4 linked regions of the Homo sapiens genome follow. The protein of the gene in region 3 interacts with the protein of the main gene of each other region in a biochemical or structural test. Each region holds a gene or a part of one and is shown on either strand. Other genes may lie near its edges.

Region 1 (7,601 bases), on a different chromosome or scaffold from region 3:
TACAGAGCTTTTCTGCTCTCCCTGTGACTCAGCCTCACCCCACCCTTTCTTGGAGATAACCCTAACCCTGCATTCCTGTGCAGTGGCAAGGAATCACCCTTCCTCTGCCTTACAAACAGGAGACAGAGGTTAGAGAGAAGGGGAAAGTGCAGGAAGCATATCCCACTGGGGGTTTCCTGGGGGCATGCATGCTACTCTGGAGATGGACTTTTGCATGTTGGTGGCTTTGTTCAGTCCCTGCCACTCTAACCAGAATTGGGATTGTGACAGTCCAGGAGTGTCCCCTCCCTTTACAAAATGTAAACCTCCAGGATTCTGGAAGGTTTAAATTGGTAACATCTCTAACAGCAGCCTCAGTGCAGAGGGGACACACACACACACACACACACACACACACTTCCCTGAGCATTCCCACTTTGGTAAGGAAGGAGTATAATTTGCTGAATGGTGCAAGCAAGCCAGGAGGACAGAAGATGTTACACTTTACTCAGGGAACAGAGGCGGGCAACTGGCCCTGTGACTGCAGCCAACAGCTTTAAGAACACAGTCCTTTCTGCTTCAAGGTTAGGGAGACGTTCTCGCCTCTTTCTTCTTTGCAGTTATTATTCAAGAGGCTTCCCCCGACCCCAGTCCCCAGCACCATCCTCAGAGCTTCAGACCATACATTGACAGTGAGCAAAGGGGGCCCCAGGCAGGCGGGTCTGGGGCCAAGGAGGGCGGCTCCCCTGCGCGGATCCTTCCCTGGTGGCTCCCAAATCCGGCGTTTTCTCTGCCGCCTCTCCCTCGGGGGAGACTCGGAAAGGCTGCAAAAATCTGGGCGCCCGTTCGCTCGCTTGTCAAGAAGCAAACTGTCTTCACATTCTCCAAGAGCAACATCCCTGCCTAGGAAGAGGAAGGAAGAGGCAAAATAAATAAAACCAGTTAATGTTGTAGTTAACTTGCAAATCAAGTAAATCTGTTGGTGCCGTATTTGAGAAATAAACCATCACAGCGTCACAGCAAACACACACTTCTGAACGTCTTCATTTTGATTTAATGGTATATCAGCGTCAACTATCGCTTCCTCTGCTGGTACACACGGCCTGATGCCGCGGGAGGAGGGTGCCCATGTTTATCACCGAGTGAGATGACTAATTACACCTTGTCAATCACCGGCTATGAAGACATAAAACCAGCGCGCACAATGAAGTAGTTGCCTGCAGCGTCAATTAGTTGGCGATTCTGAGGTTATTGCGTGGCCCTGCTTTGGCCGCCTCTAATAACGGGACAGAGCGCCGGGCACCGCGCACTGATCAATCACCCTCCTTCCGCGGCCGCCCGGCTCCCTCCCCTCTCCCCCGCCGGGTCTGGCCTCACTTTCTCCGGGCGGCTTGCGCTTCCTCCCTCCGCGGCCCCGGCTCCGTGGCGCCGGCAGCCCCGGGAGCCCCGGGAAGTTTGCGCGCGGCAGCTCCGCAGCCGGCAGCCGGGAGCCCCGCAGCCTTCGGGGAGCGCCGGGGCTGGTGGCCCCTTTGTTGGAGGAGGCGTGGAGGGAGCGCTTTTGTTCTGAGTTAGTCACGGTGGCCGGCTGGAGGCTGCTACCTCATTATGCGCCGGGTCTGCTTGTCTGCGAGGAAGCAGATGGTGGGGAGGTAGGCAGCGGCGAGAGTGGCCAGACCTGAATTCCGTTCACCTGTCACCTCCCACAAAAGGCAGGTTCGGGGGACTTAGGCATTCGTTGCCACTTTCTGGGGGAGGGGGAGGTCGAGGGGCCGCCGTTTCCGGCGCCTGCGAAGGTTCCGTACCTGTCGGTGCCCGCTCCCCCCACCCCTTGCCTTTCCCTTGGCTGCAGCTTCTCGCACCGCGTAAATGTCACTCACGTGTCAGGATGTGTGTTTACAGCCTGTTCCTCTGCTTGTTTAGTCTCGGCGGACAGGGCTCAGCGGTTGCGCGACGTTCCCCGCCGCTGGGGGAGATTAGCAAAGTTACCCGCCTCTGGACCCCGGGGCCTGGGCCCCTAGATCCCGCCCCGCGGCGGGAGATGCGTTTGAGCCTTTTACAGACGGAGCGCGTCCCAGCCTGACGCAGAGGGATGAATAGACAAGCGCACCGGGCGGGAATCCCGACTGCCTGTGTATCTGGGGTCGGCCCAGCGTTGGACGTGGGCTGCTGGTCCGAGAGGTGGCGACGGAATCGCGTGCCTATATGTATGGGGGAGTGGAAAGTCGCAGGGTGTGTTTCCACGTTTCTTGAGCAGCCCGCGGCAAGAGTTGCTGAGTACCCCACCCCCCGCCCCCAGATCCTAAGGCAGCCCCTCGAGCTTTCCAAACGTATTGTATCCAGCCCTCCCGAGAGTGGAGTTGCACCAAGGACAAACACTCTAGCGTCATTACAAATTTTTTCTGCCCCTTGGGCGACCTCCAGATGAACCCTGGTGACTCTCAGATTGGATTTTCATTCCTTACTTTCTTTGAAAGAAAGTGCCCCAGATGCGTCAATAAAACATGCCTATGTATTCGTGTAGGCGTCCGCATGCCTGCGCGCCGGCCGTGTGCAGGCGCCGAAGCACACGTCTGTGTGAACACACGGGCACGCGCGTCTTTGGGTTTAGTGGTCCTTCCCTCGCGTTGGGGCATCTGTACACATGCAGAATATACACATATGATTGTAACTTCAAGTTTTTTCAATTATGCAAAACGACCTCGTAGGAGCACTTGCAGTGATTTAAGTAGAATCGCCTGAGCACGCAAGTGCAGGTATAACGTGCAATTTACCATTTTGCAGTTGCATCCTTCTTCCCAGCTCTAGACACTTACACCTGATGCGCATGTGTAAGACCCTAGCTCTTCAGTGGTGCTGGCTGTGATTTTGCCAACAGAGATAAAATTCGTGCTGGCTGTGTTATTGCCAACAGAGATGAACATGTGTATTTGCACACATGAACACAAGTTCATGTGCTTGGGCATTACACGCATACATATATTTGTGCACACATATATTTGTGTGTGAAAGTTACTTACACACGTGAAAAACATGATTTCATGCCTCAACTCTGTACCCTGTGAGGTAAACCGCAGGTCCTGACTATCCCCTTACCTGTCCTGGCAAACAAGTCATTTCAGACTGACACCCGCCTTGTCCCTATTAGACGGAGCCAAACCTGCCTCCGAAGCAGACCCAGATGGGACTCTGTAACCGAAGTGCTTATTCAGTTTTTGTCTACAATCATTTTATTTCCTAAATCCCTCCCCCACCAGACACCTGGGTATTTCCCTCCAGTCCCCAGGAGACTCTAGGGTGAGCCTGAAACCTGGAGGCTGGGGGTAGCAGTTGGGATTTACCCAGCACGCTACTTTGTTGGCCCCTGGGGAGGTGGTGCAGCCAGGCGGGTAAGGAGGACTCGCGCCATCAGCGGGGTCTGAGACATGGTGTGCCCAGTGGGCAGAGAATAGGCCTGTGGTTTTTAAGAACCTCACTGATATCGAATGTGTCTTGGAGTGAGAAAGTTTTTAATGGAAAAGGAGCAAGAGAGAGTAATGAAATAATTTGCTAAGTGCCTACTATGTTCCAGGCATTTTACATCCACAGTCTCTTTCAATCAACACGTCCATGCGGAGGAGAGCTTCTTGTCGCCCATTATAAAGGTCAGAAACAGGCTAAGGGAGGATAAGTCACTGCCTAAGGTTACAGTGCATGTAAATGGCAGAGCTAGGATTCGAACCCTGGCCTTTCTGAGTTCCTAAAGCCATGCTCGCCCCCACTCTTCCAGGCTGGGGAGAGACCGGGAAGAGCGAGAAGCTACACGCTGGGCTGCAGATTGGGCCCTAGCGGGCTTGGAGCGTGGATATGCTGGCTGGCCCCCCTCCCCGGGAGTCACAGCTCTCGCCGGTCTCGCCACTCAGGCTCTGCCGGGTACCCAGGAGGCTTGCACGGCCGCCTGCAGCCCGCTGTGCAGAGCCCGGGCCGAAGGCGGAGCTCGATGGGAAACGGCCGGCCGAAGGCTCTTGCAACTCTGCCACAGGCCTGCCTTCCCGGGCCTCCCAGGCGGGTGCCTGAGGCCGCGGCTCCAGGCCGAGGGGAGACCGCAGTGAGACGAGCATCCCCTTGCTGCGCCTTCTTAGGATAGAGGGTTTAATTTTCCTTTCTGAAGATATCGCAGGAAGCTGTTCGTATCTTAAAAACTCCAAACCCCGCGCTCTCCCTCCTCCCTGCCTCCCCCCCACCCCCGCCCTCCAGCCTCGCCCACCAGCTCCCACCATCTCGACTCTCCTCTGCTCCTCTTGCCTCTCCCCTCCCTCTTGGGTCTCCCGCCTTCCCGGAGCACGCGCTGCCAGGGCCTGGGGCGCCGAGCGGCCAATGGCACGGCGGCAGGACGTGATGTCAGGCGCGGCTGTAGAAAAGGCGCGGAGGCTTGCGCTGGCGCGGACTGCAGAGCCGGGGCTGGGCTAGGCGCGCGCTTGGAGAGCATTGCGCGCGGCTGGGCCCGCGGCCGGCGGCTCCTCCTCCCACTCTGCTCCTCCTCTTTTTTCTCCTCCTCCACCTCCTCCTCCGCCTCCTCCTCCTCCTCTTCCTCCTCCTCTTCAATTCTCCCGGTGGCTCGACTCGGCTCGCAGGCTTCGGAGAAACCCCTACTCCAGTCGCCGACTCAGCGCCCAAGAGGGTCGCCTTGGGCTGGGGGCGCACCCCAGGGAGGGGAGGGGTCCAGGCAGCTGGGCCGCCGCGGACACCTAGCGGCTTCAGGGTGAACCCCGACCGCAGCCGTCGCCGCCTCGGGCAGAGTTTGCGCCCTTGCTTTGCGCCCCGGGCGCTGAAGCCGGGCGGGCGATGCCCGCGGCGTGAAAGCGCCCGCGGCGGGCGCCGACCTCTGTCCTAGTCTCCTGCTCCCCCCGCCCCGCTTGTCCCGTGCCCTTGTGACCCTGGCTTTGGCGCCGTCGCCCAGGCGCCCCGCAATGTAGCTGCCCCTGCGCCTCGGCGGGAGGCGTCCTGCCCCGCGAGCGCCCGGGGCCCGGAGCCCGGCCTGGGGGCTCAGCCGAGCTCGGGCGGGGCCGGGGCCGCGGTGGCGATGCACCGGGCCCGTTAGCGCCAGGAGCGCCAGGCAGCTGAGGCGGGGGGCAAGCCCTCCCTCGGAGGAGCCGCGCCCCCGGCCCCGCCGGTCCCGCCGCGATGCTGTTCCACAGTCTGTCGGGCCCCGAGGTGCACGGGGTCATCGACGAGATGGACCGCAGGGCCAAGAGCGAGGCTCCCGCCATCAGCTCCGCCATCGACCGCGGCGACACCGAGACGGTAGGCGCGCGGCTGTGGGGTCGGGGCTGAGAGCTGGGATGGGGCCGGGCCAGTCAGCGCCTCTGCTCCCCGAAGTTTGGGGAGCGTCCTTCGTGCCGCACGGGACTGGGTGCTGGGGATCCTCGGTCAGAATGCAAGGCCGGTGGCTCCCGGTTCGGGGGAAACCCGGCTGCTGGGACGCAGAAGGGAAACAAGGTTGAAACCGAAATCTCGGCCCTGGGGGTAGAGGAGAGCGTTTCTTCCGAACTGGAAGCGAAGTCCCATCCGCGGCCCGGGGCGGCTCCCTTCTCACCTTGCCCGGTGCCGGGGTCGACAGCCCCGCGCTCTCCTCCACCTCTCGGCTCCGGTTGCTGGCGGCGCCGCGAGCGGCGCCAGGGAAGGGCGAACCAGCTGGGAGCATTGGGGCTCCAGCCGGCTTGGGCCGCTCCCAGCTTTCCGGCAATCGGGGATCCTCCTCAACCCCCAGCGCAGTTTCAGAGGCCGAAGTCTTCGGGGCCAACATTTGTCGTTGATCGCGTCCCCAGACCCTTGACTGGTCAGACTTAGCCAGGCCAGGGCTGGGAGTTCAGGCTCCGGCCTGGCCCTCGCCGAAGGAGACTCCATTTGGATCTCTACACCTGGCTCCGCGGGCCCAGCCCCAAATAGCCAGTTCCTCGCCTCAGGCCTCCCTGGGGGCCAGACGAGCAGACACTGCCCGACCAGCGGGCCCAGAAGTGACCTTTAGGAGGCCGCGGAGGTGGGGAGCACGGGAGAAGCTTCTCTGCTCCGGGAGCAGGAGCAGCGGCGCCAGTGTCCTCCCGGCCTCTGAGCGCTTCTTCGGTTAGACCTTCTCTGCTGGTCAGTTTGGATAGGGAAGTATTTGGGTTGAACCTGTCCTTCACCCACGGACTTTGAGGGTGTCCCTGCACCCCACTTACCTCATCCCCGGACCCAAGAGGGCCCCAGCCCGTGTGGCAGAGGAGCCAGAAGTTGGCTGACTTGTCCTGGCCTTAACCTCTGGTCTAAGGATCCAGGGATCACTGGAGCTGGGGCCCAGGAACTCCGCTGTCTCTCCAAAGAGGATTCTGTGTGGAGGGTGACTTAATGGTCACCTTATCCCCCGGGTGGCTCATTTAAGAAGCAGTTTAGGGAAAGCTCTTGGAGGGCTTGACTGGAGTAGCTGTCCTGGTCCCTAAACACAGCCCGAGCATTTTGGGGGAAAGGACAGGGAGGACTGGAAGGAAGAGAGGTAAGCACCAGAGCCATTTAGGCCAGGAGCCCGGCCTGGGCCCGTGGCTGGCGAGGGCTGCGCAGGCAGGCCTGGGTTCTGAACCGCCCAGAAATGGAAATGGGCCTTTTGGGGTGGGGGGAAGCGCGCCGCATGTCCTGGCAGCCCCCTCCGCGTTCAGGGTAGCCAAGGCCACAGAGGGAGTTGTGGGTGCCGGTTTCCCGGCGGCGGAGGGGCCGCTGGCTGACGCAGGCGCTGCTGTCTTCCGCCTCCCTCCCTTCGCAGACCATGCCGTCCATCAGCAGTGACCGCGCCGCGCTGTGCGCCGGCTGCGGGGGCAAGATCTCGGACCGCTACTACCTGCTGGCGGTGGACAAGCAGTGGCACATGCGCTGCCTCAAGTGCTGCGAGTGCAAGCTCAACCTGGAGTCGGAGCTCACCTGTTTCAGCAAGGACGGTAGCATCTACTGCAAGGAAGACTACTACAGGTAGCCCCCCCACCCAACTGCCCCTCAGGACCCCTCCCCCCAATCTCAGGCACAGTCTTACAGTTTGGCCCTCTCCTTTCCGTTTAGTCCCAGGAGAGGGTTCACTACTCAGGACTCCCCCGCTCCCCCCCCAAGTTCTCCAAGCCACCACAAGTTGGGTGATAACCTTTTAAAGCAGCAATTTGGGGAGCTCTTGGAAAGGTCTACGAAGTAGGAGAACCAGAAAAAAAGCAGAAGCTGCCCTCCTGCTCGGAGCTTAGACCACAAAAAAGCTTGAGTTGGGATCCTTGCTCCCCTCTCTCTTTGAAGTTTCTTGAGTTAATCCGAGGTTATAGAAACAGGCACCCCCAAACCTAGGCAGCCCAAGCTGGAGTGAAACACAGCTGGAAAGAGAGCTGTGGGAGTGGGTGCATTTCCAGGTCTTTTGAGAAAATGGGAATGAAAGGTGGCCAAGATCAAAGAACCAGAATCACTAGTAGACTCCAAGTTCTCTGTTTCTCCTTCTCCCCAGTTTTAGGATTAGGGTCTATGTATATTCTCTCTGTCTCTGTCTCTACGTCTGTGTCTCTCTCTCTTTCCCTGTCTCTGTGTTTCTTCCAAATTATAAAAGTCAGTAGGATTCCCAGGCGCTGGTTTGGAGGGAGGAG
Region 2 (7,232 bases), on a different chromosome or scaffold from region 3:
CCATTTGACCCAGCCATCCCATTACTGGGTATATACCCAAAGGATTATAAATTATGCTACTATAAAGACACATGCGCACATACGTTTATTGTGGCACTATTCACAATAGCAAAGACTTGGAACCAACCCAAATGTCCATCAATGATAGACTGGATTAAGAAAATGTGGCACATATACACCATGTAATACTATGCAGCCATAAAAAATGATGAGTTCATGTCCTTTGCAGGGACATGGATGAAGCTGGAAACCATCAGTCTTAGCAAACTGTCACAAGGACAGAAAACCAAATACCGCATGTTCTCACTCATAGTTGGGAATTGAACAAAGAGAACACTTGGACACAGGGTGGGGAACGTCACACACTAGGTCCTGTGGTGGGGGTAGGGGACTGGGGGAGGGATAGCATTAGGAGAAATACCTGATGTAAATGATGAGTTGATGGGTGCAGCAAACCAACATGGCACATATATACCTATGTAACAAACTTGCACGTTGTGCACATGTACCGTAGAACTTAAAAGTATTAAAAAAAAACAGTTGCTTATTGCCTAGGGCTCAGATGTTTTCTCTTTGTAGAGATTTTTATCGTAAATAGCTTAGTTTTTCATAATTGCAGGCAATCTGATATTATTTTGAACCTTTTACTTGTTTATTCATTGAGTAGGTGACTGGTATAGTGGTCCCGCAACTGAACTTGATACTGAACCTGATGATGAATGGGTGAAAAATAGGAAAGATGAAAGTCGTGCTTTTCATGAGTGGGATGAAGATGCTGACATTGATGAATCTGGTAAGCTTGTTTGGAATTAAAATTATTACATAGTGTTTTAATAATTGATAATTAAGTACTTATAATTATTAGGTATTAGATTTATGTATTTTGTGTTTTCTAAAGAAACTGGTGTTTCTAAGCCTACTACTTTTTAAAATTTGAAGGAATAATAATGAAATTTTAAATTAATTGAAGTACTTTAAAGAGTGCATAGGATTATTTCTCGTTTTTATATTAAAATCAAAAATCAGAAAATGGTACCTTTTTTCTTATGAAAATAATGTACGTTTATTATAGTGCTTTGTAGTTTACAATGTGATTTTAGCACCACTTCAAGTGATCAGTTGCACAGCATCTATTGAGTCATCTATGGCTTGAGGGAAATAGGATGAAACTGTTGAGTCGACTTACTCGTTTGTAGATAGTCTTAATACTTGCCTAATAAGGTTATTGTAGAATTAAGAAGTAATATACATAAATATTGTTTGTAAATGGTAAGGGATTACAAAAACTAATGTAGCCATTCATTAAACACTGTGGGAGAGTTCAAGGATGGATAAGACTTCATCGCTACTCCAAACAACTCACAAATGAGAGAGAATTTAGAAAACATAATTTTTAATTTAAAGTATATGATGGAAAAATGCTGTCATACTTGTGCAGAGAGATGCTATTTGGAAGTGTGAGGAGGAAAACAAATTCTGTCTTGGATATTCTAGATAATAATTATTAAAAGATGGTAAAATAGTAAAAAATGAACAGATGAGACATTCTTCTAGTTGGTAAAACTGAAACTATAGGAAATTTTATTTATAAAGTTACTTGCTTAAAGTAATTTGGTCTGGCGAAAGAATTAAATGTGGAAAAAAGACACGTGGAAAGTAACAGTGTAAGTATAAAGATTGTTGTATCAGCAGCTAAAGTAGTTTATTTTTATGAAACGCAGATGTGCCACATTTTGATGTAAAGATTCAAAATGTCCTATATAAGGAAAAGGTCTATTCTAGTTTGATAGATTTGGTGATGTGCTTACCTGTGGCAGGCATTGTTTTAGGTATGAAGGATCTAATGGTGAACAAAATGGAAAAAAGCAAAACAAAACTGGCGCTTGTTGAGCTTAAAATTTAGAGACAGGAGGCAAACAATAAATACAGGTAAAATATATTCCATATTAGATGGTGACAAGTGTTGTAGAGAAAAATAAGACAAGGAAAACATGCCAAGAAGAATTTAAAATTGCAGTTTTAAATTGAGCGATTAGTTAAGGTCCTTTGGGAAATTTGAGTAAAGACCTGAAGGAGATGAGATATTTGCTCAGATGTCAACTTAAGGAAGTCTCAGTTTATTCATTCTAGAAAATTAATTCATAATACCCGTGGTAAGAATGTTGAAGGTTCTCACAAATTCAGTGTATTTGTCTCCATACTTGAAGATAGCCAGAGGAAAGACTCAATTTCCTTCATATTGAAAAGGAAAAGTTAACGCTGTAAAGATTGAGCCTTTTTAGATAATATATCTGTTGATTATTAAAGACTAAACTGTCATTTACTTCAGTGCTTTTTTCGGTTTGGCTGCCTTGTCTTTTTACTTGTCCTAAGAAGTTATTGTTTTTCATAGAATGTTTAACTTTCTTAAAGATTTCACAGTTCCAGTTACCTTGATTTAATCATCACACATTGTATACAGGTTCCATAGTATCACATGTACCCCCAAAATATGCATAATTATTGTATATCAATAAAAAATTAAAAATTTAAAATTTTCACAGTAAATAGTATACATTTAGATAGTGAGGGCCACAGAAACAAAAGAATGGTTTGGGAATAAAATTATAGTAGGGCTCACTAAAGTAATTTTTATCTCCTTATATTTTATCTTCGTGTGTGTGTGTGTGCGTGTGTGTGTGTGTGTCTGTGTCTGGCTAAAGGAGGAATTTAGGATAATATCTAAACAAGGAACCATGAGTAACAAATTCTTTTAGTTGATATCCTTTTGTCTGCTATACTTAGTTTTGTTTTAAATGAGACTTCCTTAACTTATTCTGTTAAATCATTTTATGTTTAAAGACATTCAAATTGGTCTTTAGGTAAGAATAATAACAATAGGATCCTGAGAAAGGTAATACAATACAATTATTCATTCTTTTTAGTGTAGTGTGTTTTTTCCTTTTTTCGAATTGGAGTTTATGGTGTTTTCATGGTGGATGTTACAGTAGTACATTCTGTTGTAAACATCCAAGCTTTACAGAAGTTATTAAGTAAAACCAAAAGCCATGCTCATTTTTAGCTTCTTAGAAATTCTAAAGTACCTTCCTTTGCTTGATTCATTATGATCAGGCTAATTTAGTTGAGTTTCAAATCTTTTCTAGCTTTGTGCCCTTTTTAGTTATGTGGAATCAGTGATAGTACGTTTTACTATGGATCATTTTTCTTTTGATATCATATTTTCTTTTCTCTTGAAAACTTTTGCTGTTCTTTTCAGTTTTCACATTTTTTTCCAAAACCTTTTCATTGCCTAAAAATGGGATGGTTTACATAAGAAAGTATAAGGATAGCACAAAGTATGTCATATTTAACAATTTGGTGAGCGCTTGAGTAGCTTAATTATTATCAGTTTATCAAGTTCTTGGACTTTTGAATTCATTTTACAGAAGAGTCTGCGGAGGAATCAATTGCTATCAGCATTGCACAAATGGAAAAACGTTTACTCCATGGCTTAATTCATAACGTTCTACCATATGTTGGTACTTCTGTAAAAACCTTAGTATTAGCATACAGCTCTGCAGTTTCCAGCAAAATGGTATGTTTAAATTAACACTAGTTTGGGTATTAAGAAAAACAGCATGATAAGAGTTTGGTTTGCTCATTCCTGAGTTTAATTAAGGGGAAACAAACCCAAAAATGATTATTGAGTGCCTTCCTATGGGTAGGCATACACTGCTAGGTTACTTATTATTTCATTGCAGTTCTCACAACAATCTTTGTAGCATAATTATCATTACCTATATGTTACAGATGAGGAAACTGACTAGAAGAGGTTAAACATTTTATTCAGTTTCACAGATGTTAAGTGATAAAGCCCAGTTTTATGTGATTTTTTAAATAATATGTAAGGCATGGTAAGATGGGCAAATGAGATGAAATCACTGTTTTATAAAAGTGGATATTACGACTTCCTACATCAGAATCTTGAGTGTTCCTTAAAAATGTAAAAATCCTGGTTTAGTCTCATAACTGCTAAAACAGATACTTGGGCGGGTGCGGTGGCTCATGCCTGTAATCCCAGCACTTTGGGAGACCGAGGTGGGTGGATCATGAGGTCAGGAGTTCAAGACCAGCCTGGCCAATATGGTGAAACCCCATCTCTACTAAAAATGCAAAAATTAGCCAGATGTAGTGGCGTGTGCCTGTAGTCTCAGCTACTCAGGAGGCTGAGGCAGAAGAATCGCTTGAACCCGGAAGGCGGAGGTTGCAGTGAGCCAAGATACTGCCACTGCCCTCCAGCCTGGGTGACAGAGCGAGACTCTGTCTCAAAAAAAAAAAAAAAAAAAAAGAGATTCTCAGGGATTTGAGCCCAGAATATTTTATTATACTTTTTTCAAGTATTCAAGTGATTTTTTTTTATATTCACAAAAGTTTGTGAACTAGATTATGTTTACTAATAGTCATCTGTTACTTAGCTAACTGAAGTTCTGCAGATCTTTACAGTGACAATTTCTTGCCTTTTAGGTTAGGCAGATTTTAGAGCTTTGTCCTAACCTGGAGCATCTGGATCTTACCCAGACTGACATTTCAGATTCTGCATTTGACAGGTTAGTTATTTTAAACAATTTAAATATAATGAAAAACTATTTTATAAGGTTTCATTTATGTAATTGCAGTTTAATCATACTATTATTTTTTACTATCAAATCTCAGTCATGTCTGAGTATAATTTGATAGCACCCTCCAGTTCTTCACTTCTTACTCATAGGTCCCAGCTGATCCAAAAATCCCATCTGTATTATCTTGCAATCTCTGTAGTCCTATATTTTGTCTAGGCCCTTGAGCCCTGCTGTGCAACCATGTAGATTGGTATTATATGTTTTTAAGAAGTTTTAGTTTTAGTTGGGCTCTAAGTGCCATTTGGCAAAGCTCCCTCTTAGATTCTTCACAGTTACTCTGAAATAGTATAGTGTAACTTTCTTCAAGCCACCTTCTTCCCAGAGTATATCTCCTTGACCACCAATTCTCTGTATTATTGCTCACTCCCTCTTTCCCACCCAACTATTTATATCAGCACCTTTTTTCCTGCTGCAGAGGAAGAGGTATACTCTTCTCGGGCTAAAGCTAATGCTCCATCTTCCTAGAGCTTGTTTCTTATGGATCTTCCTCATTAACCGTCGGTTATTCTCTTTCTTTCATGTGTTTGCAGCCTTACTTCTGCTGACTACTTTTAGGATAATAAACTTAAGTCTTCCAATCCTTACGCCTCTCAAATCCTACCCTTCTGTTAGGTTAGGAATACTTTGACTTCCTTATTACTCTCATTGAGTTTTTGTATCCCTAGCATCAAGAATAGTACCTTAACAATAGATAATTCACTAAATACTTAAGTGATTATATTAGATGTCAAATCTTTCTTCTGGTTTTCATCTACATGCATATAGTCAAATGCTTTTGAAAAATTTAACAATATTCATTAATAGTCTTGTCTTTTAATTATAGTTGGTCTTGGCTTGGTTGCTGCCAGAGTCTTCGGCATCTTGATCTGTCTGGTTGTGAGAAAATCACAGATGTGGCCCTAGAGAAGATTTCCAGAGCTCTTGGAATTCTGACATCTCATCAAAGTGGCTTTTTGAAAACATCTACAAGCAAAATTACTTCAACTGCGTGGAAAAATAAAGACATTACCATGCAGTCCACCAAGCAGTATGCCTGTTTGCACGATTTAACTAACAAGGGCATTGGAGAAGAAATAGATAATGAACACCCCTGGACTAAGCCTGTTTCTTCTGAGAATTTCACTTCTCCTTATGTGTGGATGTTAGATGCTGAAGATTTGGCTGATATTGAAGATACTGTGGAATGGAGACATAGAAATGTTGAAAGTCTTTGTGTAATGGAAACAGCATCCAACTTTAGTTGTTCCACCTCTGGTTGTTTTAGTAAGGACATTGTTGGACTAAGGACTAGTGTCTGTTGGCAGCAGCATTGTGCTTCTCCAGCCTTTGCGTATTGTGGTCACTCATTTTGTTGTACAGGAACAGCTTTAAGAACTATGTCATCACTCCCAGAATCTTCTGCAATGTGTAGAAAAGCAGCAAGGACTAGATTGCCTAGGGGAAAAGACTTAATTTACTTTGGGAGTGAAAAATCTGATCAAGAGACTGGACGTGTACTTCTGTTTCTCAGTTTATCTGGATGTTATCAGATCACAGACCATGGTCTCAGGTGAGTTATCAGTTCCAGAATATTAAGAAATAGACGTGTTCTCATTTCCAAATGGAATATAAAAATTTTGATCTAAGTCATTCTTTTCAGTTGATTTACTTAGCAAAAAGGATTAACCAAGATCTGCCCTACTTCAGAGTTTTGGAGCAGTGTAACTTCTGTTATCAGTATGAAGTTTCATTTCTGTCAGTTCAAATCCATTGTGATGTATGGAAGAACATAAATTCTAAAGTTTAATAAATACTTAGTAAATGGCTACATCACATATTTTAAGGTACTTTAGTGGATGAAGAAGGTACAATTTTTACTCTCAAGAACATGTAACAAGAAAATATGCATATTCTGTTGCTGTGTATTATTTCTGTATGTTATAGTTTTATACTGAGGGTTTTGGAAAACGTAGGCTGTCCCTGGAAGTCATTTAGTCTGACTACACGGCTGTTAAGTGTTTACAAAAGCCAAAGCTGAGCTAGAGTTTCATATGTAGCTAGAGTTTAGAAATTTTGGTCTTTGATCATGATCAGCTTACCTTCTGTTGCTTTTTTAAGTCATAAAGAGAACATGTGGAAGAAGTTCTACATTTTCTTTTCTGTTTTTTTTTTTAATAAGCATAATCTTCAGCAGATTAAACCGACTTTTTTTTTTTTTTTTAACCTCCTAGAGGAAAGAAGGGCTGAAGGTGACACATGTGTCAGCCCAGACAGGTAGCTCTTTTCAGCAGCTAGGTTCTATATGTTTTATAGGACCCACCTCAAGATTTGTTAGGTTACGAGTATGCACTGTTGGAGAAAATACCATGGTGCACTGACTTGGGAGCATGGCAGACTTGATGTAGATTGATTTTGCTTTTTTCTGTATGACTGGCTTTGTGCAAAATACTTAACCTTATACTTTGAGGCTTATGTAAGAGGAATATATATAAGGCATCTAACAATGATACACAATAGATTTTCAATAAGTGGAAACTGATGTGCAGTAATCGATTATCTTTGACATGAGCCTTTGGAAATTGGATACATGCTTTT
Region 3 (7,653 bases):
GGGCTTAAGCAATTCTCCCACCTCAGCCTCCCAAAGTGCTGGTGATTGTGGGCATGAGTCACTGCCCTCAGCTGAGATAATTTAAATAACGTACAAAATACAGTGCTAAATCTCACCTTCCTCCCTTCCCTAGCTGCACCACACAAGTATGAGGTCTTTCAATATATTTTTTGAAGCTGGGTCCTTCAGTCAGCCTTTTCTCAATTCAGGTTTTAGCTAAAGCCAGAGACTCACCTCTAAAAACTTGTTTCAGTCAAAAGTTCACACCAATGGGGACCTTTGTCCATTACTCAGCAGTCAGTGATGCCCAGGTGAGTCATCTTCCCAAACAGATAACAGTTTTGCCCAAGTGGCTGCCACAATGCAGACAAAGGTAAGCTGCTGTTCTCCTTTTCCACTTGACTTTTCTACCTCCAGCTTTTTTTTGGTAGAAGGGATGAAGGTCTCACTCTATTGCCAAGGCTGGAGTGGAGTAGTGTGATCACAGCTCACTGCAATCTCGAACTCCTGGGCTCAAGCAATCCCCCCGCTTCGGCCTCCCCAGTATCTAGGACTACAGGTATGCACCTCCACACCCAGCTCATTTTCTAATTTTATTTTGTTGAGACAGGATCTCAAGATGTTGCCCAGGTTGGTCTCGAATTCCTGGGCTCAAGTGATCCTCCCACTTCAACCTCCCAAAGTTCTGGGACTACAGGTGTGAGCCACTGCACCTGGCCTACCTCCAGCCTTGAGAGTGACCTTCTCCAGAAAGTCTTCCTTGGCCCCTCATTGGGGTTCCCATAGTGCCAATGCCATATTTTATTCATGCATTCACCCTTCAATTAGTAAAAGTCTAATACCTGCCAGGACTTGTTTCAGACAGTGAATGAACAACCAGGCTAGGTCTCTGCTCTCATGGAGCTGTCATTCTAATGGGGAAGGCAGTAAACTGTCAATTTACCATGCAGCATGTCAGGTAGGAAGATACTCTAAGATGAAACATAAAGCAGGGCAAGGAAACAAGAGAGATATTGCTATTTGGGTAGGACAGTCAGGGAGAGTTTGTTGAGGTGATATTTGAGCAGAGACATGAAGAAATGAGAATATGGGCCAGTAGGACGTCTGGGAAGACAGTTCCAGGTGGCAACTTTCTTTGTCAGCAGCAGGGGTCTTGTATTACTCAGTTTATTTACCACTGTTATTAGTCAAATTGTGTCCCCGCAAAAATATCTTGGAGATATGTTGGAGTTCTAACCTCCAGAATATGACCTTCTTTGGAGTCAGGAGCTTATAGAGGTGATCAAGTTAACATGAGGCCAGTAGGAGAAGCCCTAATCCAAAAGGACTAGAGTCCTTGTCAAAAGGGGAACTTTGGACACAGAGATACACATACAGGGGGGCGGGGGGTGGAAAACGTCACATGAAGATGAAGGTGGGGATCAGTGTGATGCATCTACAAGTCAAGGGACACCAAAGATTGCCGGGAAACCACCAAAAGCCAGGAAAGAGACACGGAATAGATTCTCTCTCACGGTCTTCAGAACCAACCCTGCCAACAACTTGGCCTTGTACCTCTAGCCTCCAGAACTGTGAGACAATAATGTTTTGTTGTTTAAAGCTTGATCAGCCTTAAGTTTGTATTAGACTGGTGCAAAAGTAATTACAGTTTTCGCCATTGCTTTCAATGGCAAAAATCACAATTACTTTTGCACCAACCTAAATAGTACTGTGTTATGGCAGCTCTGGGAAATGAATACAACCATTCAGTGCTGTGAGGGCCACAGACAGATCACTTGCTCGCTCACCCAGGTTCACGGGATAAACCCTGGTTATACGGAACTTCTGGGAGCCCTGGGTTACTGTAAGTGCCCCCTAACTGGACTCCCTGTTTCCTGTCTTACTTTCTCTAACCATTCTCCACAGTACTGCCCTGATCTTTCTAAAATCCAAATCTTTCCTATCTCATGGCTTCACAAGCTTTTACCTGCCTCCCAATGTCTTTGGGATACAGCAAAATTTCTCAGCTTGAGGCCACAATGCCCTTGGCATCCGGCCCCAGCATATTTCTCCAACCTTATTTCTCTCATCTTTGCATTCACTCCCTAGCCATACATTTTCTACCCCACTCCTAATGGGACCAAACTTCCATTCATCCTGAGGCCTCCACTTAGTCACCATCTCCACCGGAAAGCCTTCCCAAAGCACCCAGGAGGGGGGTAGGTGTCCCTCCTATGTGCTCTCCAAAGCCCTTTCCTTCAATGCCTTTGTGGCATTTATCACAGTGTGTTCAAGGCCTGTTTGTCAGTTTTCTCCCTGTGACCATGAGTTCCTATCTTGTTTGTATCTCCAGGCACCAAGAAAGCACTTGGCACTTGGAGGACATTCAGTGGACGGATGAGAATAAATGAACAAAGCATGCCATGTTCCAACCAGCTGGTCCCAGAACTATTTTGTTCTCCTTTAAGGGATGGGGGATGGGCAGGTGACCTTTCCAGGGATTTCCCAATAGTAGGTAGAACCACTGGAGCTGGATGGAGCTCCACCTTTCCTTAGTGGTTGCAAGAGGAATTTAGATTAGACATTCAAAAGCTGTTTCTTGTGTCGAAAGACACTTGCAGTACAAAGAAGGGAAAGTAAACAATCCCGCGATTTTTCAGGTTGGGTTTTACCAATATTTTAGAATCTGTTTTTTTATAGGAAGTGGCCCCTTCAGGTATCCAAGCCTCTGATACGGTAAACTGCATGTCCTGACCTACAGGTAAAGGTGGTGGGAGGTTAGGAGAATAGGGAATTGTTGCAACTAACAATGCAATGTGTCATGTGCCCGTATCTCTAAAAAGTAAATATTTTTGAGGTTTAAAAATTATTTGCCTGCACGGTTTGCCGGAGAGCCTGGAAGAGGAAAGAAGACAAGACACAAAGTAACAACATTTACAAAAATATGCCTGACTAGGAAAAGACAGAGGGGTCATAGACGAAAATAATCAGGATTGGGTCTCTTTTGCAAATTCCTGAACGGGGAAATGTATCAGAATTTCCAGTCCTCAAGAAACAGGGCCTTTAAAAGTCTTGTGTGCAAGAAGGGGGAAAAAGACGAGGGGGGGGCGGGGAGGCGGACTCGCTCTTCGCAGCAGGAAGTCTTCAATGGCTATCGAGTTATGAAGAAACAACTGCCCAGAAGTCCTTATTCGGAGCGCTAAACTCGATTTTACCACATAAAGAGCAATGTAAAAGCTCAGAACAGCCCCATCATGGTGTTGGGGAAACAACTCGGCTTCCCCATGTGAGAAAGCCAGAGAGCTCCGACTTGGTAGTAGCCCAGACCTGTGTTAGGGGTTTTATTTGCAAGTCAATGAACCAAACGGGCGACCAGGCTCGTTGTGCCGCGTTGTGGAAGCAAGGTTATTATTATCGCCCATTGCCCCACTGAACAATTTCACTGAAAAGGAAGAGTCCCAGCCGTGTGTGTGCGCGTGGTGCCATACGGGACGTGCAGCTACGTGCCCACCTCCAGAACGACTTTATTTACAAAGCGATTACCACGTTATCTATTTGTTTTCCTTTTCCAGCAAGAGCAGCCTTACTCAGCCCTCAAATTTCTTAATTACAAACCCGTTTGCTTCTAAATCAACCCCAAACCGTCAGGCAGAGCCCGGAGGGAGGCTCTGCAAGTTTGTACACACCCCCACCTCCCGGATCCAGGGCAACAGCAGAAGCAAGTAACTGTGTATGTGCAAAAAGGTGGATCTGGGGACGAGGATCGCTGAGTTTGTTTACAGAGCAGAGACGCCTCAGCTCGGATGCCAAAGCTACCAAGAGCTGCAAACGCAAACTTAGCAGAAGCACACGTACCCCGGGAGCGGCAGGCGGGCCCGAAAGCGCGGACTGGAATTCCAGGGCGCGGGAGCGGGGGTGGCCGGGCCCTCGAGCGCGCTCCGTCCACCTGCAGCGGCTGCCCCTCCCCGCCCCCAGCTCCTGTCCTTGAAAGGAGTGGAGGAAAAAAATGCATCTACAAGCGGTGATCTAGAGTAGGTCTACCCACTGCCCGTATGAAAACACAAAGGCACAGCCTAGGAAGGCGCGCTCAGGAAAGGGCGCATTATTTGTCCGGGTCTTTAAAACCCAACTCGAGGAAGCACAGCCATTCTTCGCTGCCTGTGGAAGCTTTTGCAAAACCGGGGAGGCACAAGGGCACTCTGGAGGGCGGGGGGCGCTGGGCGAGTCCCCTTTTCCCGTAGAGAGCGGGGCAGATCGCTAGGTGAACCGAGTGAGAAAGCTGGGGGTGGGGTAGATCCAGCCTGAGGGGGGCGGTGAGCTCTCCTCGTGGCTATCCCGGCAGGCTCTACCTTCGGGCGGGGCGGCAGGGGAGGATTTTCCCCCTGCCTCGGGGGTGGCTGAGCCAACCTCGCGTTTCTGGGCCGGGAAGAAACCAGAGTCGGGGGGCGACGGGGCGACTGGGCGGCCCCCGGGCCCCGCAGCCTCTGCAGCACGTGCCGCGGGCGGCGGGGACGCGGCTCCGGGACCCGGTCCAGGGTGTTCGCGGTGTTCCGGAATCCGCGTCTTGGCGCCGCCCGCCCTGGAGGCTCTCGCTCCGCCTTTCCGAAATGCCTATATTAACTGTGGCCAAAGCCCTAAGAAACACAGCTCATTGTTGGCAGCTGCCGGGCGGTCCTGCCGAGCTGTGAGGGCAACGGAGGGGAAATAAAAGGGAACGGCTCCGAATCTGCCCCAGCGGCCGCTGCGAGACCTCGGCGCCGACATCGCGACAGCGAAGCGCTTTGCACGCCAGGAAGGTCCCCTCTATGTGCTGCTGAGCCGGTCCTGGACGCGACGAGCCCGCCCTCGGTCTTCGGAGCAGAAATCGCAAAAACGGAAGGTAAGCGCGACGGGCGAAGCTGGCTGGGGCTCTTGCCAGCCCAGTCCTCCGAGGGCAGGGTTTGCCCGGAGGAAGAGCGTGAGGCGAAGCTGGGGAATAACAACAGGATGTGCAACAACAGGATGAGGAGGGCTGATTTAATGCCTGAAGTTCGCAGCAGGGCTACGGGGCACTTCCTTTATTAGGCCACTTCGGGGAGCAAAGGGGGTGTGGGCTCGGGTCCCCCCGCCCGATCGCAGGGGAAGGGGCTGTTTGTGCAGCGTCCGGCTGTGTTATGAGTGGTAGCTCTTCCGTGGTGGCTAGCCCGGGTGCACAGGCTGTTAGTGGGATCTTGGGGGTGGTGGTTCGCAGCCGACGTGCGCCCGGGAATCCTGGGGGGCAGAGGCGAGCAAAAGTGGGGTGCGCTGTGGTGGGCGACACGTGTGGCGCGGGTCTCATTATCTGCCCTTTTCACTTCCAGGACTGGAAATGGCAGACCATATGATGGCCATGAACCACGGGCGCTTCCCCGACGGCACCAATGGGCTGCACCATCACCCTGCCCACCGCATGGGCATGGGGCAGTTCCCGAGCCCCCATCACCACCAGCAGCAGCAGCCCCAGCACGCCTTCAACGCCCTAATGGGCGAGCACATACACTACGGCGCGGGCAACATGAATGCCACGAGCGGCATCAGGCATGCGATGGGGCCGGGGACTGTGAACGGAGGGCACCCCCCGAGCGCGCTGGCCCCCGCGGCCAGGTTTAACAACTCCCAGTTCATGGGTCCCCCGGTGGCCAGCCAGGGAGGCTCCCTGCCGGCCAGCATGCAGCTGCAGAAGCTCAACAACCAGTATTTCAACCATCACCCCTACCCCCACAACCACTACATGCCGGATTTGCACCCTGCTGCAGGCCACCAGATGAACGGGACAAACCAGCACTTCCGAGATTGCAACCCCAAGCACAGCGGCGGCAGCAGCACCCCCGGCGGCTCGGGCGGCAGCAGCACCCCCGGCGGCTCTGGCAGCAGCTCGGGCGGCGGCGCGGGCAGCAGCAACAGCGGCGGCGGCAGCGGCAGCGGCAACATGCCCGCCTCCGTGGCCCACGTCCCCGCTGCAATGCTGCCGCCCAATGTCATAGACACTGATTTCATCGACGAGGAAGTTCTTATGTCCTTGGTGATAGAAATGGGTTTGGACCGCATCAAGGAGCTGCCCGAACTCTGGCTGGGGCAAAACGAGTTTGATTTTATGACGGACTTCGTGTGCAAACAGCAGCCCAGCAGAGTGAGCTGTTGACTCGATCGAAACCCCGGCGAAAGAAATCAAACCCCCAACTTCTTCGGCGTGAATTAAAAGAAACATTCCCTTAGACACAGTATCTCACTTTTCAGATCTTGAAAGGTTTGAGAACTTGGAAACAAAGTAAACTATAAACTTGTACAAATTGGTTTTAAAAAAAATTGCTGCCACTTTTTTTTCCTGTTTTTGTTTCGTTTTTGTAGCCTTGACATTCACCCACCTCCCTTATGTAGTTGAAATATCTAGCTAACTTGGTCTTTTTCGTTGTTTGTTTTTACTCCTTTCCCTCACTTTCTCCAGTGCTCAACTGTTAGATATTAATCTTGGCAAACTGCTTAATCTTGTGGATTTTGTAGATGGTTTCAAATGACTGAACTGCATTCAGATTTACGAGTGAAAGGAAAAATTGCATTAGTTGGTTGCATGAACTTCGAAGGGCAGATATTACTGCACAAACTGCCATCTCGCTTCATTTTTTTAACTATGCATTTGAGTACAGACTAATTTTTAAAATATGCTAAACTGGAAGATTAAACAGATGTGGGCCAAACTGTTCTGGATCAGGAAAGTCATACTGTTCACTTTCAAGTTGGCTGTCCCCCCCGCCGCCCCCCCCACCCCCATATGTACAGATGATAATAGGGTGTGGAATGTCGTCAGTGGCAAACATTTCACAGATTTTTATTTTGTTTCTGTCTTCAACATTTTTGACACTGTGCTAATAGTTATATTCAGTACATGAAAAGATACTACTGTGTTGAAAGCTTTTTAGGAAATTTTGACAGTATTTTTGTACAAAACATTTTTTTGAAAAAATACTTGTTAATTTATTCTATTTTAATTTGCCAATGTCAATAAAAAGTTAAGAAATAACTTGTTTTCTAGAAGTCATTTGGGGGTGGTTGTTCCCTTTGGTGGCTTTTTTCCCCCCGTCTTTGAGTTGAACACTATTGATGAGAGTAAGCATTCCAAAGGATAAATTACAGGACACTAAAACAGGTCATGATGAGCTTAAGCGGAGAGCAGGATTTAACATAATTGGCATAATGCTTCATTGTTATCATTGTAACATGCCTCTTGGTGTGCTTTAATCAAAAGCTGCAAAGTTGTCACTGCTTTTTTTTTTTTCTTAATTGCCATCATATCAAGTGTACTCCAGAGTTAGAAAGGTTTGCAATACTCAACATTATCTTTTTCAATGGGCAGGAGGCAAAAAAAATCAAGTGTTTCTGTTTATACCTGATTCAACTACTTAAATAGAGGTAGATTGGAATAATACACTGATTGATTGATGGGTGGCATTAAATATAAATCTACCTTTATCTCCAGTGATGAGAGTTTTATTTCTCAGCAAAAGTGCCAAGGATAGGTACATATTTTCTAGCGTAATCTCTGAAACAGTGTCTGACTGGTTTATAGTTCTGAGAAAGATGAGGCAGAATTCCACTTTGAGGCTTTTGTCCTATAATATTTAAAATGTACTCAGGTTGACTCAAAGGTCAAATTACAGT
Region 4 (7,759 bases), about 130 Mb from region 3:
TAGCGGCGGCTTCGCTTGAGCTTCTAATAACCGCGCTGGGCAGCGTTCCTGGAGCCTCCTAATAGCAGATATTCATGACTATTAATATTACACGAATACTTAATAAGGGAAGAATGCCTGGAAATCGAGCGTGAAGCGGAGAGGCAACTCGCGCCGGAGCCGGCTCTCAATGCAGTCCATTGACGGGAGTCTCAGTGTAGCAAATCGGAGTGGGGAGAGGGAGCGCGAGAGACAAAAAGCGAGCGAGAGAGGGAGCGGGCGAGCGCGCGGGGGGCCGCGGCGCGGCGTCTGGCGAATCACAGGGAAGGGGCAACATTTTAAAAGGTTGCAGGGCATGCAAAAGTGAAAGAGAAAGAGGCAGAGAGGGAGACCGAAGGAGAGAGCGCAGAGAGGGAGAATGTGTCTGCGTGCGTGTGTGAGAAAGAAAGTGTGGGCGAGGGAGAGGAGCCCCGGGTGGGGAGAGGGGAGGGAGGGAAGGAGGGAGAGCCCGAGAGGAGGAAGGGAGGGAAAGAGGGAGGGAGGAAGGGAGGGAGGGAGGGGGAGGGGGCCCAGCCGGAGCGCACGGAGGGGGAGGCCGCGGGGGAGGGGGAAGGGGAGAGGAAGCGAGCGAGGACAATCAGACCTAAAAGGCTGGGGCAGACCTCGGGATGCAGCGGGGGTCGTGCGTAGCGGGTAGGAGCTGCTTGGGACCGCGTCCGGGCGCTCGTGGGGCTCTCGGCGCGGCAGGCGCTTCCCGGCCCTGTCTGGCCGCGGGCTCCGCCGCTTCGCAGCCGAGTCTGGGACTCGGGACTCGGCTGCCCGCTGCTGCGCGGCTCCTCCATGACCCGGCGCCCTGCCCGGGACCGGCCCGCTCGCTGCACTGGTCCTCTCCTCGGCCTCCTCTTGAGCTTTCCTCGGACAGGGGCACCGTGCGCTCCCCGGCCACCGTCGCTCTGCCCTCGGCTCTCTGGGGCCGGGGATTCCGGATCGGGAGCCGGGATGCGGGCCGGGGCGCGCACAGACGCTAGGCGGCCCAGCCCGGGCGCCGCTGGCACCGGCTCGCGGCTCCCGGCAAAAACCCGTCCGACTGGCTGGGCCACTCCCGCCTGACGCCCCCCCAGATGACACGACTAGCTCTCCCGGCGTGCTGCCTTTGCCAGTCTACCCGCCAGGTTGTCAGAACAAGCGGCACCTCGCCTCCTGCGTGTCCCTACAGAGCCCCGGCACAATCAGACTGCCCCAAGCCAGCTCCGAAACCCGAAATCCCCGCTCCGGCGCTTGCCCACCACGGCCAAAGTTGTGGAAACAGCTTTGACTTTATTCTCCTCTCTCTCTCATCTTTTTTTGCCTCGCTTACACACGCATTCACACTTGCCCCCACAGGATCCCTCTAGGGGTGCAAGTTCATCCCCCACCTAGCCACCCACCCCATCCAGTCGGCACCTAGAGCCGCACGGAGGTTCGGACCCCGCCCGCCGAGGGCGCCCACACCTGGAGCTGGGTTTCGGCCTCTGCGAAAGTGAAATGCCCAAGCCTCCGGCCAAAGCCCAGACCAGTACAGTATGAATTGTCCTATGAGACTGAGGGGTTCGGCTTCATTCCTACCTGCCCGCAAAGCTCGCCCCCAGCCTCGAAAACAAAGCGACTGGTCTGACGTGGGGTCCCTGCGCCCCTCCTCTAGCGCGACAGGACCCCCCCAGGGAAGAGCCAGTACCCGTGGGATGTCACCCCGTCCCCATCTACCGGGGTGGGGGGCCTGAAAGGAGAACGATTTAAAATAATCTTCAGAAAGAAAAGGGAGGAGGGAGCGGGTGACACATCGTTCACATAAACCCAATTTCTGGTTTCGAGTGAAGTCAAGATCTCCGCCCCTGCGCCTGCACACACACCTCCTGCCTAACATTCTCAGCTGCAAATGCCAAAAAAGAAAAAAAAAAAAAACAGCAAAAGTTGGGACTGCCACCTATTTATTTAGGTAATCTCCAGCCCTACACACCCCAACCCCTCTCTCGGACTCATTGCTCATTACAGTGTTGGTTGTAACCGTTCCCAGCGCCTCCTGCGGGTGGACAGGTCGCGCTAGGGTCTCCCTTGCTGCCTCAAGAAGGCGAGCTCAGGGGACTCTGCGTTTTAAAATGGGTTCCAAAGCGGCGCGCTCTGTCGGCCCAGCGGGCTTGCGGCACCAGAGGTGGTCTGCAGCCGCGCAAGGATTCCCACGGTCGTTCTGGGCTGGTGCAGAAGCTGGTGCTCCCGCACCCAGCGGCCAGCAGGCTCGGCGCAGCACATCTCCCCACCCCACCCCCACACACCCCCGTGGGGTGCGTCGATCCTGTAGCTCAGAGGGAGAAGCTACTTAGAACTTCGTGAAGCACAGAGGATCTGGAGCGAGCCCCGCAGCTGGGATCAGTGGTCTTAAGTTGAACCCGCTTACAGGAAGATGCAGCCCAGCTCACAGCGAAGTGTGGGGGGGCCGTCTCTAAAGCCGAGAAGGGAACCGCTTTAGAAGTGGGGGTGGGGGGAAGAAAGAATGAATGAATGAATGAATGAATGAATAGAAAGAAGAAGGAATATTAAAGATCGGAGAGGAAGTTCAAGAGAGAAAAGAGTTTTCTCTTTCCTTTCTGTTCCTGGTGACTTGGGCCCTCAATCTCGATGAAGATAACACGAGGAGTGCACAGGCAAGTGCCCAGTTGCCAGCAATTGCTTCAAAAGCCCATGTTCTTCTTTTCCCCCATTCTTAGGCACAGCCAAAATTGGTCAGAAAGGGGAGTAAAGTGGGACACGAGCTTCAAAGTAGGGAAACCAAAGAAGGGAGCATCCACGTCCTCTCTCTGCAGCTTCTCCCCCGCGTTCTTCGGGCGAATCCGAGGGACGGGCGCTGCGCTGGGGAAAGTTTGTCCCACCCGCGTTTCGCAGCTGGTTGCAAGGAGAGGAGGAGGAGAGGGAGGGTCAAGCTCGGAGCCTGTGACCGCACGGATGATCGAGCCGGCGTCGCGCTTACCTCGCAGTCCTCGTACTTGATATTATCCGTCAATTTCCAAAGCATTTTCATGGATCGGCGTGAACGGATATGCCCCTCTCGGTCTCGCACCCAAGTGGAGCTACTCTCTGGGTGAGCGCAAAGTGCTGGCTGCCGGCGGTGAGCGCAGGAGGAGGAGGAGGAGGGAGAGGAGGTGGAGGAGGAGAAGGAGGAGGGAGAGGAGGAGGGCAAGGAGGAGGAGGAGGAAGAGGAGGGCGAGGAGGAGGAGGAGGGCGAGGAGAAGGGCGAGGAGGAGGAGAGAAGGGAAAGAGCTCCCGTGTGCGCTCGGAGATCTCCCTCTAATGGTAGAAACTTTTCCCTTTTCCAGCTCTTTACCAACAGCCTAATCGCCTCATTAGCATATCAACAATAGTCCAATTGCTCGCCAGTACCACAATCTGCCGCCGGCCGCTCCGACACAGGTATAAAGGCCTCTCTACGCCGCGAACTTGCTTCTAGAGCGCACTCCAGCCTGCGAACTGATAAAACCTTCCTCGAGCTCCGCCGCGAGGCCCTGCCCCAACACCCCCTCTCTTACCCCAATTCCGCCACATTCCCCTTCCTTTCTTTCTCCGCTTCCTTTTCTCCAGAGATGCCTTCTGCAAAGCCCGGCACTGCTCAAGGTCCAAGCGCCACGCCTGGGGCCCAGCTTCTAGCACTTCTCCCTTAACCCTGCTACCACGATCCGAGCTGCCCTTTTGGCCCCGTGCAATTTTATTAGAAATCATTATCCCTTTCGCAATTAAACATAACCACCAAACCAAGACCGGCGAAGTCACTCCAGGATTTTTTCCCAACAAGGGATCGCCTCCGCTCGAGGCAGCCACCCCCTCGGGCCGCAGCGCCTTGGGAGTTTTATTGGCTTTGAGCTTTCCCCCAGGTTGGAGATTCTGCCAAGCGGCTCCGGTGGCTCTGCTGGGGTTTGCAATCCCTTAATTGCAGCGTGTAAAATAAAAGTTGTACCCTGAAGAGGTTACTTGACAGCTCCAGGGGTTAAACAATTTTTCTCCTGTTTGTGTGAAGCTAGGGCCAACTGACAGTTCAAATTGGTGTTCAGGCTAAGGTTTCCTGGGTGCAACGTGGACACGAATACAGAACTCCTATGGAACTGCACACCCGCTTCTGAAGTTGAGCCTAAAAACAGACGTGTGTGTGCCTGCAAGTCTAGATACCGTCTCGTGCGTGCATCAAAATAAATCACCGGGAACCGACTTTTAGCTGTGTTAATCTGCTCTAGTTTTCCCAAGATTCCCCTTTTTAATTAAAGCAGGGAGAGTTCCTTCATGATTTGGTGATGCTACTAACGCGGGCGTGCTCGCGAGGCAGAGCCCGGCTGCCGCGGAACCTGGAGGCCTGGGAGCCACCTACTCGTCCAGACTGGTCAGTCCGGGCTTTTGGACTCCTCACCGGGGCCTGCTGGGTCCTCTGGGGCTTTTATCCCTTTCGGTTTTGGGATTTTTTTTTAAGTAAGAAAAAAAAAAAAGAAAAGGACCTAATGTGACACTAGGAAATACAGAGTAATTAATTTTCCTGGCTGAGCTTCCTCGTTTGTCCTCCAAAAGAAAGTTACCTCTGTCTTTTCTCTCTGCTATATGTACAAACTCCTTAACTACACTAGGTCCCGCCTCAGAGTTGCTCTAGTAAGGACCTTTGATTCATCTGGGCTTGTTTCTCGAAAATCTCCAGGCCTCCCATATTTCCACCGGGCGTTCCTAAAAGGGGATGGGAACTGTGGCAGATTGGAGCATTCCCTCACAGGTGGAAGGAAGGCAGGAGCTGGGAGAACTCCCCATTCCACCCAAGGCTGCAGAAGGGGAATTCTCCCTCCAAACACCTCAGCAAACTCCCCAAACCTAGCAGAGTAGGCAGAAGGCTCCAAAAAGCTAGGGAGAAGCCGGAGCTGGCAAGGGGCCTTACAGACCCAGGAAGCCCTCCCCATGCTCTGGGCCTCCCTTGCCCTACCTGAACTGAGCACAATTCCTCGGCTGAACCGGGCTGGAGGCTTGGCGCCGCCCTCCGTCCAGAAAATGGTCGACTTTCCAGGGCTAGACCCTGCAGGGCTGTCCCAGCCTGTCGCCAGTGCAGTGGTTTGAAGTCAGGATCTGGGCTGCCAGGAGCACCGACACCCTCCCAGCAGCGGCCATAGCCTGAGCAGGCCAAACCCTAGGCCTGAGAGCATGGGTTTTTACACTCCGTAGACGTCGCCGCGGTGTGCTTAAGGGAACTCCAAGTTTCGCTTTCTTGCCCTCTGCGGGCTTGGAAAGGCCGCCCTCCATCCTCTGCCACCCCATTTCAACCCCCGTTTCCACCTCCCCGCTGCCCCGCGCCCAACAGATCTCCGGCTCCGCACCCGCTGGGGCTGCTAAACTGTTGTTGTATTCCCGCCGAGGGCGCCATTGAGGTGCAGATTGGGACCTGCCGGCTCTGGACTGCCGCCCCCGGTGTAGGCGCTGATGAAAGGCCCGGGCGAGCGCCAGGGTCGCCTCTGGAGCCAGCCGAGCTGCATTTATGCCAGCGTCATTACCACGCTAAGTCGCTTCATTGCATGTCAATGCTCCGGCGGGGCCAGAACCCCGGGACAGCAGCGCCAGGCCTGGGGTTGGAGGTCGGAGATCCAGGCCTGACGTGGGGGGCATAAAAAGGGCGTCGCGGGGAAGAGGGAGTATTTGTGTGAGAGACAGAGTCACAAAGAGAAAGAGACAGTGAGGGGCCAGAACGACTCTCTTTTCTCCGATTGTCAATGCCCAGTGGGAGCCGGGAGCCCAACAGGCCCAGCCCATCAGATTCGGCCCCTCCGGGCCCCAAATCCGCTCGCCCCACCCGAGATCCAGGCCTCCAGCCACTTGCCTAACTGTGAGCCCGCAAGAGCCAGGCCCGCGGCTCCCTCCTTCCTCCTCCTGCGGCAGTCTCGCGGCTTTCAAACCTTAGTCGAACCCACAGAAGGCCCAGTCCCAGGCCAAACCTACTCAACAGGCACCTTCTCACGGCCTAGGAATTCTGCAGCGAAATTCACTGGAATTTGAGGAGAAAACCCAAAGACTGCTCCGAAAGGACTCCCCCAGTCTTCAGCCTCCAAATAAGAGAGTTAGGAAGGGCCTTTAGCCCACAGGGTCAGGAAGGGAAAGGTGTGGATTCCCGGGATTTGTCTCTGGTATGGGATTTGCATCCTTAAACCACGAGGTTTGTCTAAACTTGCGGATGAAATACCATTTAGTGAGGCTTAACTAGGGAGAAGAATATAAAAGAGCTCACTCTTGATAAAAGTAATAAATCCAAGGGAAAAAAGTACAGAACGCAAAAGGCCTTTCTTTCTCCAACTCCAGGTAGCTTAGTGAAGACTGCACTTCTCAGAACTTTACTTTTAATGGCCTAAATCTGAAACAAGAGAAAGAACTCGACCAGGAGTAGCAAGGCCTCAGATTTTTGGGGGGAAGTTCAGGGCATTAGATTCGAATTGTCCCCTGGGCTTTTGGGCACACAGAATCTCACCCTCACCAGGCCTCTTGGTTGGGGCGAAAACAGGGCCTCGCGGTTCTGATGATGAAATCGGCGACAGGCAGAGCCTTTTACCGCCACCATCCTGGCCAGAGCCGCTCTGTTTCCCGAAGGGAAAGTGTCTGGAAGTTGGAAGGAGAGAGCTGGACAAATGCTTCCTTGGCCAGGGTCGGAATCCGGGGCTCAGGAAGGACAGGAGCCAAGCCTTGGATGCCTTGTGGTGTCCGCGGCCTAGCAGGGCCAAGTTCCACAGGCGTTGGTTTTGGCAAATTCACCACCCCCCTGCCTCCTCACCCACCATTCTCACACTCCCTCATCCGTAGCCCAGGCGGCAAAAACCCATTTCAGGAAGTGGAGTGAGTTGCTAGCTAAACTTCGGGCAAACTTTGTATCTCCTACAGAAACACGCTGCCTCCGCGACCCAGCCATCTGGACCCCTTTCCATTCTTCACACATCCTAGATCTCCCGAAATCTGGGGGTACCAAGAGAGACAGGTGCACCAGAACCTGTCCAACACTCAACCCTGGGGTCTAGGGCGAGGCCGCAGGCGCAGCAGGCTGAAAACCTTCACCGCCGCGCACCACAACCCCAGGCCTTCTCCCTCCCCCCTTCCGAATTAGTCATCCTCCCAAGTTTCTACTTGAGGTGGGAGGGGGGTGGGGGAAACGGCCACAGCACAAACCACAAGTGACCCACCAGGCCACCTGTGGAGCGTGCGCCGGACTTCCCCGGCGCCGGGCCCCGCGGGCTGCGCGCTTTGCGCCCAGCACCGCAGTCGCTGCCTGCGCCCGTTTTTCCTGTCTTCGCTGTCTCCTGGGAGCTCTCCTGGGCGCTGCCAGGCGCGCCTCACCTACGACTCCCCTGCCCTGGGCCACGGCGCTTCCTCTCCTCCTCCCCGCTCCGGCCCCCTCCCCTACTCCACCCCTGCCCACCTCAACCCCAGCCAAGGCAAACCCCCCGTACCTGCCAGTCCCCCATTTTGGCAAGTATGGACATCGCGGCTCTGCGCTCCTGGCGACTGGTCCCCGCCGGGCATGGGCTGGAGGGCTCGGTCGGGCCAGCTCCCTGGAATCGCTTAGGCAAATCCTCCTTTTTTACCTGCTCACCAACATCTCACCTGGTCATAAAGAGCTGGGTTGCTACCTGCCGACGCATGCGCGCTGGCCCAGGAATTCACTCCGCCAGCTGCAGTCCCAGCGCCGCACAGAGCTGACCTGGGAAGTGATGGATTTATAGCCGCGGCAATCTTGCCATCAGCTCCAGCT

What was found.
Region 1: the proteins of CITED2 (region 3) and LHX2 form a complex in vitro, tested with the Homo sapiens proteins (one study listed by BioGRID).
Region 2: the proteins of CITED2 (region 3) and FBXL5 form a complex in vitro, tested with the Homo sapiens proteins (one study listed by BioGRID).
Region 4: the proteins of CITED2 (region 3) and TFAP2A form a complex in vitro, tested with the Homo sapiens proteins (2 studies listed by BioGRID, with this or other methods).

What each region holds. Positions count from the first base shown.
Region 1 is NC_000009.12:124,007,210-124,014,810, forward strand, and holds the start of LHX2 (LIM/homeobox protein Lhx2), read left to right. Parts: upstream 1-4,558; 5' UTR 4,559-5,139; coding exon 5,140-5,259; intron 5,260-6,751; coding exon 6,752-6,954; intron 6,955-7,601. UniProt on the Homo sapiens protein: Acts as a transcriptional activator. Stimulates the promoter of the alpha-glycoprotein gene. Transcriptional regulatory protein involved in the control of cell differentiation in developing lymphoid and neural cell types.
Region 2 is NC_000004.12:15,624,227-15,631,458, reverse strand, and holds part of FBXL5 (F-box/LRR-repeat protein 5), read left to right. Parts: intron 1-667; coding exon 668-793; intron 794-3,425; coding exon 3,426-3,574; intron 3,575-4,503; coding exon 4,504-4,586; intron 4,587-5,481; coding exon 5,482-6,207; intron 6,208-7,232.
Region 3 is NC_000006.12:139,371,618-139,379,270, reverse strand, and holds CITED2 (cbp/p300-interacting transactivator 2), read left to right. Parts: upstream 1-4,622; 5' UTR 4,623-4,858; intron 4,859-4,908; exon of another isoform or gene 4,909-5,007; intron 5,008-5,057; exon of another isoform or gene 5,058-5,132; coding exon of another isoform or gene 5,133-5,139; intron 5,140-5,318; coding exon of another isoform or gene 5,319-5,326; coding exon 5,327-6,139; 3' UTR 6,140-7,464; downstream 7,465-7,653. UniProt on the Homo sapiens protein: Transcriptional coactivator of the p300/CBP-mediated transcription complex. Acts as a bridge, linking TFAP2 transcription factors and the p300/CBP transcriptional coactivator complex in order to stimulate TFAP2-mediated transcriptional activation.
Region 4 is NC_000006.12:10,411,961-10,419,719, forward strand, and holds the start of TFAP2A (transcription factor AP-2-alpha), read right to left. Parts: upstream 3,115-7,759; 5' UTR 3,032-3,114; coding exon 2,981-3,031; exon of another isoform or gene 2,721-2,980; intron 432-2,720; exon of another isoform or gene 1-431.